Linked DNA regions of Homo sapiens. The protein of the gene in region 1 purifies or fractionates together with the protein of each later gene. This does not show direct contact. Each region holds a gene or a part of one and is shown on either strand. Other genes may lie near its edges.

The links.
Region 2: the proteins of SAE1 (region 1) and SUMO3 purify together in Homo sapiens (affinity purification with mass spectrometry; 3 studies listed by BioGRID and IntAct, with this or other methods). This does not show direct contact.

What each region holds. Positions count from the first base shown.
Region 1 is NC_000019.10:47,196,553-47,203,849, forward strand, and holds part of SAE1 (SUMO-activating enzyme subunit 1), read left to right. Parts: intron 1-680; coding exon 681-825; intron 826-7,118; coding exon 7,119-7,188; intron 7,189-7,297. UniProt on the Homo sapiens protein: The heterodimer acts as an E1 ligase for SUMO1, SUMO2, SUMO3, and probably SUMO4. It mediates ATP-dependent activation of SUMO proteins followed by formation of a thioester bond between a SUMO protein and a conserved active site cysteine residue on UBA2/SAE2.
Region 2 is NC_000021.9:44,804,970-44,808,212, reverse strand, and holds the end of SUMO3 (small ubiquitin-related modifier 3 isoform 1 precursor), read left to right. Parts: intron 1-1,172; coding exon 1,173-1,262; 3' UTR 1,263-2,596; downstream 2,597-3,243. UniProt on the Homo sapiens protein: Ubiquitin-like protein which can be covalently attached to target lysines either as a monomer or as a lysine-linked polymer. Does not seem to be involved in protein degradation and may function as an antagonist of ubiquitin in the degradation process.

The DNA.
Region 1 (7,297 bases):
AGGGTTTCACTATGTTGGCCAGGCTGGTCTCGAACTCCTGACCTTGTGATCCACCTGCCTCGGCCTCCCAAAGTGCTGGGGTTACAGCTGTGAGCCACCGCACCCGGCTCTTCCAGGTCTTAATAGAGCCTTTTTCCTCTACTGAAAGCTTCCACTGCTTTCTGCCCCCTTCAAACTCATATATACTTCATTGAATTGTTTCCTCGGGGAAGCCTTCCTGATACCACCCTACAGAGGGTGTCAGACGCCCTATTATGCTGTCACAGCACTTTTCACAGTAAGGTAAATTGCTTTTATAATTATTGGATTGCCTCTCTGACTATGTTTGTTGAATAAATAAAAAAAGGTGGCCAGGTGCCGTGGCTCACACCTGTAATCCCAGCACTTTGGGAGGCCGAGGCGGGCGGATCACGAGGTCAGGAGTTTGAGACAAGCCTGACCAACATGGTGAAAACCCGTCTCTACTAAATATACAAAAATTAGCCAGGCATGGTGGTTCGTGCCTGTAGTCCTAGCTACTCAGGAGGCTGAGGCAGAAGAATCACTTGAACCCGGGAGGCAGAGGTTGCAGTGAGCCAAGATTGTGCCATTGCACTCCAGCCTGGGCGACAGTGTGAGCCTCCATCTCCAAAAAAAAAAAAAAGTGGCTTTATAACCTGCCTTCTTTTTCTTATTCCCAGTGCTCTTAAAGTTCCGTACAGATAAAGGAAGAGATCCCAGTTCTGATACATATGAGGAAGATTCTGAGTTGTTGCTCCAGATACGAAATGATGTGCTTGACTCACTGGGTATTAGTCCTGACCTGCTTCCTGAGGACTTTGTCAGGTTGGTGTCAGTATTTATCACTGTTTAGTCTGGACAGATAAAGTTTGTTTTCAGGATTTGCCTTAATTTGACAAGCTCTTTTATTAGAAACCCTTCAGAGAGCACCCTGCCACATTCTGCTCGCTCCTGTAGACTTCTGCCTCTCCACTAGAATAGCAATATATAAAAAATAAAGAGGGGACAGATTCTGATTTTTACAATAAGTATCTTATATTCACGTGGTTCAAAATTCAAGGCAATGTAAGATCTGTAAACATTATTCTCTACCTTTTTTCACTTTATGTGATCTTGTTATCTCTTGGGGACATCTCCAGATCAGTACATAGTTTGCTCCCTCTTTTCCACAGCTCCTTAGTATTCTAGAGTGTGAAGCGATGGAGTTTATTGAACCAGTTGCCTGCTCACTCAAGTTGTGTTCAGGCTTTTCTAACTGCGTAACACTGCAGTGTGTGACCTTGTGTCGTACGTGTGCAGGTACAACTGCAGGATAATTAGGAGGAAGGGAGTTGCTGGGTCAGAAGGTTGTAATTTATCATTTGGTCAGCATTGCCACCTTGCCTCCATTGGTATCCTATCAATTCATACCCCCAGCAGCAAAACCACCCATGTTCCCAGCATCCTCTCACTTGGACACTCCATGCTTTCACCTTACGTGACTACCTTTTTGCTCTCATAAACAGGCTTAGGATTTGATTGGAGAAGACCACATAGTGACTAGGTCACAATCTCTCTCTCTCTTTTTTTTTTTTGAGACAGAGTTTTGCTCTTGTTGCCCAGGCTGGAGTGCAATGGCACAATCTCAACTCACCGCAACTTCTGCCGCCTGGGTCCAAGCGATTCTCCTAACTCAGCCTTTTGAGTAGCTGGGATTACAGGTGCCTGCCACCACGCCCAGCTAATTTTTTTTGTATTTTTAGTAGAGATGGGGTTTTCCATGTTGGCCAGGCAGGTCTTGAACTCTTGACCTCAGGTGATCCGCCTACCTTGGCCTCCCAAAGTGCTGAGATTACAGGCATGAGCCACCACGCGCTCCATCCACATCTCCTTCCAAGCAGCTCTGGGATCATGTACACACCCTAATTCCCTTTCCATGTCTTGAGAGGCTTCCTAAACTCGGCTTTGCAGTGCCTCCAGCTTGTAGCAGTGATAATGATGGCTGCAGTTTACTGAGCAGCTGTTATGTACTAGGCATCAGGTAGTAAGTAGCCAACCCAGATCCCACCCCAGGTATCATTACAGTGCTTGCTCTAGTAGCAGCATGCTACCTTGGTTTCTTATCAACAGTAAGGTCTGCCAGAGTCCCTAGTCCTTTCTTTGTTGACTTCCTGCTGGGAACTTCAGGTGAGCAACAGCAAACCCCACTCCATTTAGGGCCAGCAGTGGTCTTTGAAGCACCTGTGGTGCCCTGACCCAAAAAGCCATGATTGTCCTGGTACAGTGGCTCACACCTATAATCCCAGCACTTTGGGAGGTTGAGGCAGGCAGATTGCTTTGAGCTTAGGAGTTTGAGGCCAACCTTGACAACATGGTGAAACCCTGTCTCTACAAAAAATAGAAAAATTAACTGGGCATCGATGACTGGTGCTTGTAGTCTCAGCTACTCTGGAGGCTGAGGCTAGAGCATCGCTTGAGCCCAGGAAAGCAGAGGTTGCAGTGAACCAAGATTGCACCACTGCATTCCAGCCTGGGTGACAGAGAGAGACCGTGTCTCAATACATATAGCGTAAGGCTGGGCGCGGTGGCTCACGCCTGTAATCCCAGCACTTTGGGAGGCCGAGACAGGCAGATCATGAGGTCAGGAGATTGAGACCATCGTGGCTAACATGGTGAAACCCCATCTCTACTAAAAATACAAAAAATTAGCCAGGTGTGGTGGTGGGTGCCTAAGTCCCAGCTACTCGGGAGGCTGAGGCAGGAGAATGGCGTGAACCCGGGAGGCAGAGGTTGCAGTGAGCTGAGATCACGCCACTGCACTCCAGCCTGGGCGACAGAGCGAGAGGGAGACTCCTTCTCAAAAAAAAAAAAAAAAAAAAAAAGGCAGCAATAGAGTGGCAGTGCCTGAGCACACGAGACTGAGACATGGAAAAGCGGTTTCCCCAAAGAGGGTGGGCAGGGAAGGAACCACTTTGGAGAGAAAACCAGCCAGCAGCTCGTTAGGCTGTGGCTTTCCTCTTCTAGGAAGCAGGGCCTTCAACTCTGCTGGCCGGTGATGCAGAGCCAGACCGTTCATCACTTTGAATGCCCAAGTAGTCACTTGGCTGCACACTCACGGCCCAGCACACAGCCCCAGGTATGCTCAGTGGCTGCCGCTTGCCACTGGCTGACTGGCTGGGATTATTGGAACTGAAGCCCTGCATGACCCAGTCCTTCTTCCTGCTGCGAAGCACAGCAGAGGAAACACTTGCTTCTCACAAACTGGTCATTCCTCCACCAAGAGATGAGTGCCCCAGTGAGTTACCATGAGATCCAAGCCTGTACAGTGTCATCAGCCGCTGACCTCACGGTGCTGATGTTACAAAGGCACCTTGTAAACTGCTGCCTATGTTTAGATGATGGCTTTTTTTTTTTTTGGAGACAGAGTCTCGCTCTGTCCCCCAGGCTGGAGTGCGATGGCATGATCTTGGCTCACTGCAAGTTCCGCCTCCCGGGTTCACGCCATTCTCCTGCCTCAGCCTCCCCAGTAGCTGGGATAACAGGCGCCCGCCACCACGCCCAGCTAATTTTTTTTGTATTTTTTAGTAGAGATGTGGTTTCGCTGTGTTAGCCAGGATGGTCTTGATCTCCTGACCTCATGATCCACCTGCCTCGGCCTCCCAAAGTGTTGGGATTACAAGTGTGAGCCACCACGCCCAGCCTCTTTTTTTTTTTTTTTTTAAGATAGGGTCTCTCTCTGTTGCCTAGGCTAGAGTGCAGTGGCACATCATAGCTCACTGCAGCATCAACCTCCTGGGCTCAGGCAACACTCTCATCTCGGCCTCTTGCGTAGCTGGGACTATAGGCGTGTACTACCAAGCCTGCCTAATTTTTTTTTTTTTTTTTTTTTTTTGTATTGACAGGGTCTCACTATGTTCACCAGGCTGTTTCCTATTTTTTAAAGTTATGAACCGCATAACAAGAGAGTATACAAAGCACATCTGCCTGAGTTAAATGATAATTAATACTTATTTATTTTTGTTGTAGAGACGGGGGTCTCACTCTGCTGCCCAGGCTGTTCTCAGACTCCTGGATTCAAGCCATCCTTCTGCCTTGGCTTTCCAAAACTTCTGGGATAGACAGGCGTCAGCCACTTGTATCTCTTTTAATTTGGAATAGCCCTTGGCAAACTGGCTTGCCACCTCTTTTTGTAAATAAAGTTTTATTGGCACACTTACTCATTTATATATTATCTGTGGCAGCTTTTGTGCCACAGCAGGGTTAAATAGTTATAACAAAGACCATATGGCCCATAAAGCTGAAAATATTTTATTATCTGGTTCTTTTGTTTGTTTGTTTGTTTTTGAGACAAAGTTTCACTTTGTCACCTAGGCTAGAGTGCAGTGGCATGATCTCGGCTCACTGCAACCTCCACCTCCCGGGTTCAAGTGAATCTCCTGCCTCAGCCTCCTGAGTAGCTGGGATTACGGGCATACGCCACCATGCCCAGCTATTTTTTTTTATTTTTTTATTTTTTTTATTTTTTTTTGAGATGGAGTCTTACTCTGTCACCCAAGCTAGAGTGCAATGGCCCGATCTTGGCTCACTGCAACCTCCGCCTCTGTGCTCTGTGGTTCAAGTGATTCTTCTGTCTCAACCTCCTGAGTAGCTGGGACTACAGGCGCGTGCCACCACGCCCGGCTAATTTTTGTATTTTTAGTAGAGATGGGGTTTCACCATATTGGCCAGACTGATCTCAAACTCCTGACCTCATGATCCACCCAGCTTGGCCTCCGAAAGTGCTGGGATTACAGGCATGAGCCACTGCACCTGGCCTGTTATCTGGTTCCTTTTTTTTTTTTTTTTTTTTTTTTTTTTTGAATCAGAGTCTTGCTGTGTCACCCAGGCTGGAGTGCAGTGGCGTGATCTCGGCTTATTGCAACCTCTGCCTCCCAGCTTTAAGTGATTCTTTTGCCTCAGCCTCTGGAGTAGCTGGGACTATAGGCACGTGCCACCACGCCCAGCTAATTTCTGTATTTTTAGTAGAGACGGGGTTTCACCATATTGGCCAGACTGAACTATTCCTCCAATACGGCCAAAATGAGATTCTACCAGCAATGGGAGGAGTTTTTTTAATTATTATTATTGGGAGTCTCTCTCTCACCCAGGCTGGAGTGCAGTGGCACCATCTCGGCTCACTGCAACCTCCACCTCCTGGGTTCATGCAATTCTTCCACCTCAGCCTCCCGAGTATCTGGCATTACAGCTGCCCGCCACCACACCCGGCTAACTTTTGTATTTTAGTAGAGACGGGGTTTCACTATGTAGGTCAAGCTGGTCTTGAACTCCTGACCTCAAATGATCCACCCGCCTTGGCCTCCCAAAGTGCTGGGATTACAGATGTGAGCCACCGCACCCAGCCCTAGTTCTCCATGTATTTTAGAGCTCTGTAGTGGACCTTGATAAGCAGGAAGATGTTACCCCTGGATGAACAAAATGGGAATGTGCTGGTCCTGGCCAGGGCGTAAGGAGCCGGAGGTGCCTTTGGACACAGCTCTTGGGATTGGAATGGATACAGCCTTTTGGGAGGGCATTTTGGCAATACATATGAAAAACTAGCATTGCTATATTTAGAAATTTGTCTTAAGGAATTATTTCGACGCCTGTGTCTTTGTCAAGATGTATGATTACAGTGTTGAACAGCTTAAATGTCCCTCAATAGGTTATAGAACAGAAGAGTAATAGTTGATAATATTTGGGTTTAAAATTATACCTATTTATTTATTTATTTATTTTTTGAGACAGTCTTGCCCTGTCACCAGGCTGGAGTGTAGTTGTGCGATCTCAGCTCACTGCAACCTATGCCTCCCAGGTTCAAGCGATTCTCCTGCCTCAACCTCCTGAGTAGCTGGGACTACAGGCTCACCCCACCACACCAAGCTAATTTTTGTATTTTTAGTAGAAACGGGGTTTCACCATGTGGGCCAGGATGATCTCGATCTCTTGACTTTGTGATCCGCCCACCTCGACCTCCCAAAGTGCTGGGATTACAGGCATCAGCCACTGAGCCCGCCCTAATTATACCCGTTTAGATTGTGCACTTTTAAAAATGTCTAGAAGGGGCTGGGCGCAGTGGCTCACACCTGTAATCCCAGCGCTTTGGGAGGCCGAGGCGGGCGGATCACGAGGTCAAGAGATTGAGACCATCCTGGCCAACATGGTGAAACCCCGTCTCTACTAAAAATTCAGAGTAGCCGGGCGTGGTGGCGGGTGCCTGTAGTCTCAGCTACTCAGGAGGCTGAGGCAGGAAAATGACATGAATCCGGGAGGCGGAGCTTGCAGTAAGCCAAGATCGCGCCACTGCACTCCAGCCTGGGTGACAGAGCGAGACTCCGTCTCAAAAAAAGTCTAGAAGGATGTGCACCACACTGGGGAGATTGGAGGTAGTTCTGTAGGGAGGCTTTCCCTTTCACTTGTCTGTGTTCCAGTTTGCTTGGTGAGCACACAGCATTGTGTTCAGGAGTAGGAGCTGGCAGAGCACACTTCCTTTGGGGAAGTGGTGGAATTAAGTGATTTGCTTACTAGGATGGGTAACTTGGAGGGGCAGGTGACTGTGTCATCTAAAATTTGTCCTCTAGATGCCCCATCCTGGCCCAGAAGGGCTGGTTTCTATGTGGGTTGTGAAGACTTTTTCTGCCCTCATACTTTAATTTCACGCCTCAAATTTCCCTTGCTTCCTACATGTTAACACAGGCCTGCTCCCTGACATTTGTCTGGGAATAGCATATAGAACCCACTGGCCATTATGGGTAAGAAGAGAATTGCGAGAATGTGACCAGGGCACTGAAACATCTGATATCTCTAGGACAGATATAGGAAGCACAGATATAGTCTTTCCTTTAACTTATAAAGGTAAAAATAAAAGTATTGTGAAAGAATTTCTGCTTGCCAAAGTTCAAAGGTCTTTTCCAACCACTTATGAATCCCTTGCTCAGATTTCATTTTCACGCCTAGATGCCAGCATTAACACTGCTATCTGAATCGGGCCCTCCTGCTAGAAGTTGTTTTTATTCAGGAGAGCCTACTACTGAATTTCTCCAGATGTCATGGTCACAGTTCTGTTCCCAGTGCTCCATTTTCCTTGTCTTCCTCTCTTTTAGGTACTGCTTCTCCGAGATGGCCCCAGTGTGTGCGGTGGTTGGAGGGATTTTGGCACAGGAAATTGTGAAGGTAAAACATCACTGTGGAGCAGAAAATTGTTAACCATGACTTTGTATATGTGCTGACAGAGAGAATGGAAACTGTCTTAGACAGCTGCCTGCTTTCTCTCACCCCATTC
Region 2 (3,243 bases), on another chromosome or scaffold:
AAACTTGGTTCAAGTTGCAGCTCTTGTCATTTGTCAGCTGATGGCCCCGTGACCAAGCATCACTTCATCTTGTGGAGTCTCAGTTTTGTCTGTCCATAAATGGAACCAATACCTGCTTTTTCTCCCTTTCAATGTTGTGAGAATCCACTGGAATGTTTTATGTGGAAATATTTTTGCAAAACATTTAAGATTTTAAATATTTACTATTCAGTATTTAATAAATATTGAAAACATCTTTGCAACAAGTATCCATTTGTACCTACTTGAGGAAACCTACACACCGCTGAGGCAGTGGCAGCTCTGGGAGTGTTCACCAGGGAGAAGCTGCTGAGAGCAGCTGAGCAGGGAGGGCCTCGTGGAGTCTCTGGGGCTTGACTGGGGGTCAGGGGGCTGGCTGTGGACAGGTGGACCGAGAGGCAGAGGGAGCCCTGCCTGGGGGCTCTCCCTCCAGCCCATAGTGTCGGTGGCAGGGTGAGGGTGGCCGACAGCCCTGATGGGACTCCTTTCCATCTGGGAGCATGACTACTTCCAGCCTTGCTGAGTCTGTGTAGGAACTGGCAGAAGCTTCCTCTTGCTTAGAGGATGGAAGAAGATCAGGGTGGGTGTTTTGCGCCCACTGTGTCAGGAGGAGAGAAGTGAGCGGGGGTGTTTCACTACCTTGCCTGGGCTTTAAATGGGGAGGGGCGGGGAGAAGCTGGCAATGGACCCTCACTTGACGGGCCCTTCTGTGAGCTGGGGGCTTTGGCTTTCATGGCATGGTCCCCCGCACTTGGTATAAAGCGCAAGGCTCCTGTGGGTCCTAGGACTCAGTGCTGCTAATCAGATGTTCTTAATTAGAATCTGATTTTGTGTAATTTTCAGTAAGAATTTTAGACATTTCAGTTTATCTTCTAGACTCAGTTTTTCTCTCAGTTAACATTTTAGCTTTGAATCTGCTTTTGTGAGTTTTGTTAGGGGAAGCTTGTTGAACCGTAAGGGCTGTAGTGAGCATACAGCAATGCCTCTTCCATGCGTGCTGAGCTGCAGTGAGGGGACGGACAAGAGCCAAGGTGTGACCAGGTGATGTCGCTAGTGTCAGGGAACACTCATGCCAGTGAGGATCTTCCCACTCTCTGATGAAAACTAACAGGCTCCCCTCTCTCTCGCTGTGCCTGTTGTGACAACCATGACAGCTGGAGATGGAGGACGAGGACACCATCGACGTGTTCCAGCAGCAGACGGGAGGTGTGCCGGAGAGCAGCCTGGCAGGGCACAGTTTCTAGAGGGCCCGTCCCCAGCCCGGGCCGTCCATCCTCGCATTGCTGTTGAATGGTGAGCACGTGACCATGCCGACCACAAAGGTGTCTGCGGAAACTCGAGGACATTCACCACGATGATTTTCCTCTCTTTGATGTACTTCAAGTGCAACTCAAAACTATATCTGCAGGGATGAATCTGTAACTTAAATTGGGCCAATCAGAATTGTTATCTTTGTTCAGGTAAAATGAGTTGCAAGATATTGTGGGTACTTTTGTGTGCTCATTTGTGTTTTCCCCCCCTCCTACAACATTTTTTTAACCCCAAAATTATAGCCTGAATGTTCGCTTTTAGTCTGGCCAGGGATCTGACTCCTGAGTTGGTTGCCTCTCCCCTGCTCACTCCAGTCACATAGAGAATTGGTGTTTCCCGCAGTGGGGATGCAGCTGTTGGACAGGTATTGGGGGCAAGGTTGGTAGGGAGGACAGACTGTCACTTGCTGTTACAGGCACAGGTGATTAAAATGCTAAATATTGCAAATTTAAGCTTTGTCAGTATATGGAAAAGTTGAAGGGAAAATACTGGAATGCTTCTTCAAAGGTTAAAAAATAACCGAGTCTTTTGGTAATTTGACCCCACGTGCTCTCTGGCCCTCAAGCATGTAACCTCGGGGTCTGAGGCCCAGGACCCACCCCCCTGCCACCCCTCCCACCCCACTCCCTGCTCAGTACCTGGCGTTGGTACACAGGCAAGGATTGGCACAACCAAAATTGGCCTTTTTCTCCCTCTTAATATTGAAGAAATTCCCACATTTCTCATTTGGTAATGGTGTTGTGGCCTCAGATTTCTTCTAGTATTTGCTTCTGATGAATGATTATGGTCTATACATAAAAAAGTAAGACTAAGTATTGCTGAATTTGCAGTTATGTTGTCGTGTATAAGAGCTACTTCCAAGTGTGGTTACAAATGAACCCATGGAATGATGACTTCATGTTCTTCTCGTGGGTTTGTGCCGTGCTGCTTTCCAAATAGGTATTGAATTTATGCATTAGTCTGGTGATTTCAGTTCTGTGAAATATTTTGGGATCTATACCAATTAAACATTTTCATAGTTCTGCCTATTGTCCTTCCCTGAGGCTCCATTGCTGCTTGGTGGCCATTCTCTGCCTTTTTACAGTCACCTGAACAATGACCCATCATCTCTTGCTTGCTTGAAATCTTGCTGAAATGTTCTCATTTCCTGTTTGCTGTATGGGCTCGGGTGGGATGTTTGTTGGCTCTGTTGTGTTTATTCACCAATTTGTACATTATTTGTTGTCCTTTACTACTGTAAACAGTAAATATAGTTTGGTATTCTGTCTCTTGGCTTCTACTAAACACTGCATTTGAAGGTTGGGGCATACTGGTACAATTCAGTGTTTGAATTGACCATTCCAGGCAGCCACTGCACTGAGAAACTTTGATTGAAAAGCTAGCCGCTGGAAGGTTAGTATTCGCCTGGCAGCTCATTTCCCCTCCCCTGGCACATCACCAATGCTAGTCCAGCCTTCTTCCTGCTGAGGGATGCATCCTCTCCTCAGAGACCTCCTGGCTGACAGCTGTCTGAGCTGGCATCACTGTGACATGTTACCCTCCCTCTCCTGGGTTTCGTATGTAAAGAAAGGGTGGATTTTAGAGGCAGGTGAGCTTGGGTGTTAGTCTAGGACATCTCTCGTTTTCTGGTGTTTGAATGTAAGTCAGCTTTCCTTCTGCCATGGACAACTTACCTATCTGCTTTGAAACTGAACTGACATTGATTTGGCTTTAAGAATTTCCCAGTGTGCAGTGGTGTAACAAAACCCAGGTTGAAAATGAGCTGTTTTAGCCCATCAGTTGAATGAACCCAAGGTGAAGAAAGATGGGCAGCTGTGGAGATGGAACACGTGATTCACTTGCACCAGGAAGAGTGCACGGATTAAGGCACAATACAGGATGGGGACATCTGCCAGATTCCCTAGGCAGCCTGGG